2 separate regions of the Homo sapiens genome follow, and region 1 is linked to region 2. The links come from fine-mapping of genetic effects on gene expression. A gene starts in region 2. The other region holds a variant in brackets. All regions are shown on one strand. Distances are between the middles of the regions. Region 1 holds the start of MAFA-AS1 (MAFA antisense RNA 1). Region 2 holds the start of MAFA (MAF bZIP transcription factor A).

What was found. PIP is the estimated chance that this variant, and not a neighbour inherited with it, causes the effect. A credible set is the group of variants that fine-mapping cannot tell apart.
Region 1: its variant is the best candidate, but not a certain one, in a credible set for the expression of MAFA in whole blood (INTERVAL, PIP 0.88).

The regions. Positions count from the first base shown.
Region 1 is chr8:143,406,056-143,408,944 of GRCh38, reverse strand. It overlaps MAFA-AS1 (MAFA antisense RNA 1), which reads right to left and starts at 752. Exons shown (of 3, transcript NR_186795.1): 1 at 576-752. RefSeq lists silencers at 750-949, 990-1,309 and an enhancer at 2,333-2,889. The variant C/T (reference allele first, on the strand shown) is at 1,676.
Region 2 is chr8:143,429,600-143,432,488 of GRCh38, reverse strand. It overlaps MAFA (MAF bZIP transcription factor A), which reads left to right and starts at 1,757. Exons shown (of 1, transcript NM_201589.4): 1 at 1,757-2,889. The coding sequence starts at 2,083. RefSeq lists a silencer at 1,401-1,840.

The sequences.
Region 1 (2,889 bases), 24 kb after region 2:
CCAAGGACAGCCTAGCGTCCTGGGAGCTGGGCCTCAGGCCCTCTCCGGGCAGCCTCCTGGGGCAGAGTGTGTCCTGGAGCCTCCAGCCACTGGCCCTGTCCAGGCTCTGCCCCCAGGGCAGCACACTCACTCCTCACCACAGTGTCCTGGCGCCATCTGTGACCCCCGGCCTCTCCAAGCAGCCACAGGTCCACGGGAACCTGAACATGGCATCAGGTGAGAGGCAGGTGAGCATGGCCAGACCCCACACCCTGGGAGTCCTTCTCCTCTGAGCGGCCCCTCCCCAACAGGCTCGTGGGGTGAGGAGAGGGGCTAGGGGGTGGGAAGGCTGACGGAGGGAAGCCTGGGGATAGGTGGGGAGCCTGGGGGTTGGGGACTGTCTGGAGAGACCTCCTGCCACTCTCGTCCAGCCCACCAGCCCCGGTCTCCATCCCAGCCAGGCCTGGGTCACCAGGCGGCAGTAGGACCGCACCCTCTTTTCCCTGGAGGAGAGAAGAGGGGCCCTGTAGATTGGCCACGCGCTCGCTGAGCCTCAGTGACCTCAGCTGTAAGGTGGGTGCTGATGACAGACGTACCTGCTGCGGGGTGGGAGGAGCAGGTGACAGGCTCATTCCCGGTAAGGCGGGCCTGGTCCCCATCCTGGCTGCTCTGCCTGAGGCGCTCTGGGAGAGCAGAGGCGGACACAGAGGCTGGGACCACCTGAGGGACTTGCTGGGGCTGGAGGAATCCCAGTGCAGAGGCGGACACGACAGGGCGGGGCAGGGGCCGGGAAGGGAAAGGGTGGGCGGGGAATGGGTGGGGCCGATGTCGGAGGGACGGGACCGGGAAGGGGCGGGGCCGAGGCCGGAGGGGCGGAGCCGGAAGGGGCGGGGCAGATCGGGGCAGGGGCCGTGGCAGGAAGGGGCAGGGCGGGGACCGGCCGGGGACCTGGGCGAGGCGGGACGGGTTTGGTGCTTGAACCCGATCTTAGCGCTAGGAGAAGGTCCAGGGGGTGGGCTCCTCGCAGAGGGCAGGACACCCACCTCCCCGTGCACCTGCTTCTTCTCCGGTCTCCCGCCCCCAGCAGCATTCTAGGACCCAGGGGTGTCATCGGGTCGGGGAGGGAGGGGCTGAGCCTGGGTTTGGGGACATCGGGACAGGGGGAGGGGCTGGCGCTCCCGTCTGGCCGGGACCCCGTGGCCTAGCGCGGCTCCACGACCGACAGACGGCAGCGGACGTGGGGGGTAGGAGCGCGCAGGGCGGGGGCGTCAGATGGCGCCGCCTGGGGCTGCCCCCCGCCCGCCATGAGGAAGCGAGTTGGGGCCCCGGGCTCTGCTTATCTGGAGGGGCCACGTGCCCGCTGCGCCCTGCGGATGGCAGGAGAGGTGACACGCCGACTGCCACCGTCGGTGCCCGGGGCTGCCCCGACCTGGAGGGTGGGGCGGGGGTACCGCGCGCGGGCACAGCTGTCTCCCCGCAGTTGCCCGGCTAGGGGTCCCCGGGCGGCCAGTGCACGTGCGCGGGGTCTGCTCCTGCGGGGTACAAGGGGGACAACAGCGAGGGTGGGCGAGGGGGAGGCGAGAGCAGAAGCGAGAAATGCGGGCACAGGGTGAGAAGCCTGGGACCTCCTGAGAGGGTGAGAAGGCCTGCCCCCAACGGACACCCTCATGCCTGAACCACCAGCCACTGAGCTCTC[C/T]TTGTCAAGAGTCCTGGGGCCCCTCGCCAGGGAGACGCCAACTGAGCACCCAGCAGGACGACGCCCCGCAGGGAAAGATGGCTTGGGTTGGGCCTGGGGAGTCCCTGCCGCCTAGACGGGTCCCTGGGGAGGGTCAGTGGCACAGCCTGGTAGACTGGGCCTGAGTCAGGCAGTCTTTCGGGGAGGACCCCTCACTCAGCGAGGGACCAGCACCCTGATTCCACCCTGTGGGCCGGGCTGGTACCGGCCTTCCCCTCAGGCTGTGGGTGCCAGGACCCCAGGGCCCCTCTTAGTTTCTGCCCGGCCAGCAGCAGAGCCTGTGATGGGGCGTGGGGGGCACAGGCAGCTCGTGCATGGCTGCAGTGGGGCCCGGCACAGGGCGGGAGACCCGGGACAGTGGCTTTGCCCCTGGGGTGGTGGCCAGCCCCACTCGGGTGTGTGATCACCCCTGGTCCCCTTACCAGGAAGGGGCATGACCTACCAGGCGGAGATTCCAGGCCCTGATGTCCTCGGCTCTGAGTGGCATCAGTGCCCAGGCCAGCCTGAGGCAGGCAGGGCAGAGCTTGGTTGTGCAGAGCAGGGGTCCTCCAGCCTTCCCTCCTACCTCTGCCTTCTCCAGGGGTTGTGGGCTGAGGAAGCTTTTGGATGCGGACCCAGGAGAGCCTCTTGGGAATAGCTGAGGCTGCCTGGGGTTGGAGAGGAAGCCTGTGAGAAGGCGGCCTCCTCCACTGTCCCTGAGGACCACTGTGGGGAGCACGCCCTGGGCAGAGTTCCCTTCCACCCGGGTCCTGCGGGGGAGGCCAGGCCAGCCTACCAGGTCCCCTGGCTGAAGGGGAGGGGCCCCAGCCCTCCCTCCTGGCTGCTGTGGGAGGCCTTGAGCCTCACGTCTCACCAGGCCGCGTGCTGTGGGTAGAGGTGGGGGTGGGAGCCCACAGGGGCACATCGCCCCAGTCCTTGGAAGAGGAGATGGTGGCATGGGCAGCGTGAAGTGGAAAGCACTCAGGCTGGCCGGGGCCACGCAGGGCCAGGGAGTTGAGGGAGTAAGGGCTGGGGTGCAGCTGTCTTGGCGGCTGGCAAGCAGGAGCGGTCAGGAGGCTGAGGTCCCTGGGGTGTGGCTGCAGAAGGGCCTGCAGGCCTTGGGATTTCAGCCTGCATCTGCGCTGAGCCAGGCGTCCTGCCCCCCTGGGCTGTGATAGGGACACATCAGATCTGCC
Region 2 (2,889 bases):
TTGGAGGGGCCGTGGGAGGGCCCTGTAGCCCCAAGGCCTCTCCTGGGGCTGCAGGTGCAGACAACCTGGACTACCACCAGCTCCACTGCGCGGCGGCATCCTCCCTTCCCGGGCCTCCCTCTCAACACGGGGTGCCATAAAGGAAACCCCACACCCCTGGCTGGCTGACCACTCGTGTGGTCTCAAGTCCAGGTACCCAGTGTGGGGACTTGGCTCTGCTGCATGCCCACTTCATTTCTTCATCTGTAGAAGGGTGGGGAGCTCAGAGCCCCCTCTGGGACAGGATCGGGGGAGAGGGGTCCCTGCAGGTGGGTCCTCATGCTGTCCTTGGCCCTCCCTTGCGGGGAGGAAGGCCTGGTCTTCCCAAATCAGCAGTCCCAGCTCTGCCCAGAGGAGTGGGAGGGCCCAGGGAAGGGCCAGGGACACCCCGAGACACCTTAGGAAGCAGATGTTCAGTCCTCACTTCATGACAGTCTTCTTGTTACAAAACAATAGATCTTTGTAGAGGGAAGGAGGTGAGAGCCTGGTACTAAATCTGCGGCGCCGTGACCAGGCCTCCCTGTGGCCTCTGCGCAACTCCTTCCAGGCTTTTTTTCTCTACACAGGTGGTTACATTTTAGACTTTTTTTTTTTTTTTTTAAATTGCTGAAGTCATAGAACAGCAATGGAGAGAATTTCGAGAAGAAACAATAGGCCCACTTCGGGTCACCGGCCTTGTAACTCCTGGCGCAACCCTCCCATCACCCGGCTCGCTGGTGTCGGGGACCTGGGGTCACAGGCCCACCGCCCATCGTCACCTCCTTTGCCCCGTGAACCGGAGCCGTCTCCTCCCAGCAGGTGCACGGCCGCCAGGTGGAAATCCCCGCCTTCCCGTCTCAGTTACCCCCCGTCCCACTCCAGGCCCAGCAAGGCGCCTCCAGCCCTGCGGGGGGCGAAAGTGGGCAGTGGTGGCCGCTTGGGCGGGGATTCCTAACGCCCTGAGGGGCTGCCAGCCCGTGGGCCCCGCCCCCGCCGCTCGCACCCACCCGCGTTGTCCCGCGACCCCCACAGTCCTGCGCTCTCCGCGGCCCCCCACAAGCCGGCCCTCCGTCCCCGGCCCCTCGCGCCGCCCCGCACGCGTGTGTCCCCCTCCGCCCGCCCCGTGCTTCCCGGTGCCCGGAGGTGCCGGCAACTTTGTTGACCAAATTCCTGAACGCGTCTGAGCCGCGGGCTAAAAATAACCGGCTCAGCGCGCCGCGCTCTGCCGGGCCGCGCGGTGTCACCCGTGTCCAGAGGCCCGGAGGTCCCGCTGCCGCCGCCGCCGCCGCTAGCGGAGCTGCCCCCGGCCCCCAGGCCCGGCCGCAAACCCAGGGGGCCGAGGGGGCGTCCCGCCGCGTGGCCCGAGGCGGACGAGGCCCCGAGGGGGTCCCCGGGCGCGGTCCCCGTCTGCTTCCCCGGACTCTCCGGCCGCCGGGTGTGGGAGCTGAGGCCCCTGGAGACGGCAGTTGTCCCCTGAGGCGGCGCGCCCTCTGCCCGTGCAGTGCCCCGTGATGGCCACCAGAGGGCCCTGCCCTCTCCTCTAGCCGGCGGCCCGTCCCTACCTCTTCCCACAGCTGTTTCCCGCAGGAGATTGACAGCTGGGCTCTGAGTTGCCATGGGGATAAGCAAATGAGGGCGGCGGGGCTGGGGCTCCGATTGGCCCGGGGGCGCGCGCCCCTCCCGGGGAGGCGGGCCCAGGCACCCGGCTCTATAAAGGGGCGCGCGCGGCTTCGCGTTTAGCCGTGGGAGGCGGGGCCGGCCGGCGGCGCGGGTGGGGCGCGGGAGCGGTCCCGGAGCAGCCCGAGGCGGCGGCCGCGGGGAGGAGGCGGCGACGCGGGCCCGGGGTCGCCCGAGACACCTGGCCAGCGGTGCCCCTAGCGCGCCGCCCCGGAGTTGACCACGTGAAACTTTTCCCTGCGCCCCTCGGCGCCGCCGCCCCGCGCCGGCGCCCCCCCGCCCCCGCCGGGACCGCCGCCCGCGGGGAGCAGGGGGGGGAGAGGCCTGCAGCTCCCCCCCCACTCCCACGCCGCCCGTCGGGGCGCGGCCGGGCGCGGGCCCCGGGCGATGGCCGCGGAGCTGGCGATGGGCGCCGAGCTGCCCAGCAGCCCGCTGGCCATCGAGTACGTCAACGACTTCGACCTGATGAAGTTCGAGGTGAAGAAGGAGCCTCCCGAGGCCGAGCGCTTCTGCCACCGCCTGCCGCCAGGCTCGCTGTCCTCGACGCCGCTCAGCACGCCCTGCTCCTCCGTGCCCTCCTCGCCCAGCTTCTGCGCGCCCAGCCCGGGCACCGGCGGCGGCGGCGGCGCGGGGGGCGGCGGCGGCTCGTCTCAGGCCGGGGGCGCCCCCGGGCCGCCGAGCGGGGGCCCCGGCGCCGTCGGGGGCACCTCGGGGAAGCCGGCGCTGGAGGATCTGTACTGGATGAGCGGCTACCAGCATCACCTCAACCCCGAGGCGCTCAACCTGACGCCCGAGGACGCGGTGGAGGCGCTCATCGGCAGCGGCCACCACGGCGCGCACCACGGCGCGCACCACCCGGCGGCCGCCGCAGCCTACGAGGCTTTCCGCGGCCCGGGCTTCGCGGGCGGCGGCGGAGCGGACGACATGGGCGCCGGCCACCACCACGGCGCGCACCACGCCGCCCACCATCACCACGCCGCCCACCACCACCACCACCACCACCACCACCATGGCGGCGCGGGACACGGCGGTGGCGCGGGCCACCACGTGCGCCTGGAGGAGCGCTTCTCCGACGACCAGCTGGTGTCCATGTCGGTGCGCGAGCTGAACCGGCAGCTCCGCGGCTTCAGCAAGGAGGAGGTCATCCGGCTCAAGCAGAAGCGGCGCACGCTCAAGAACCGCGGCTACGCGCAG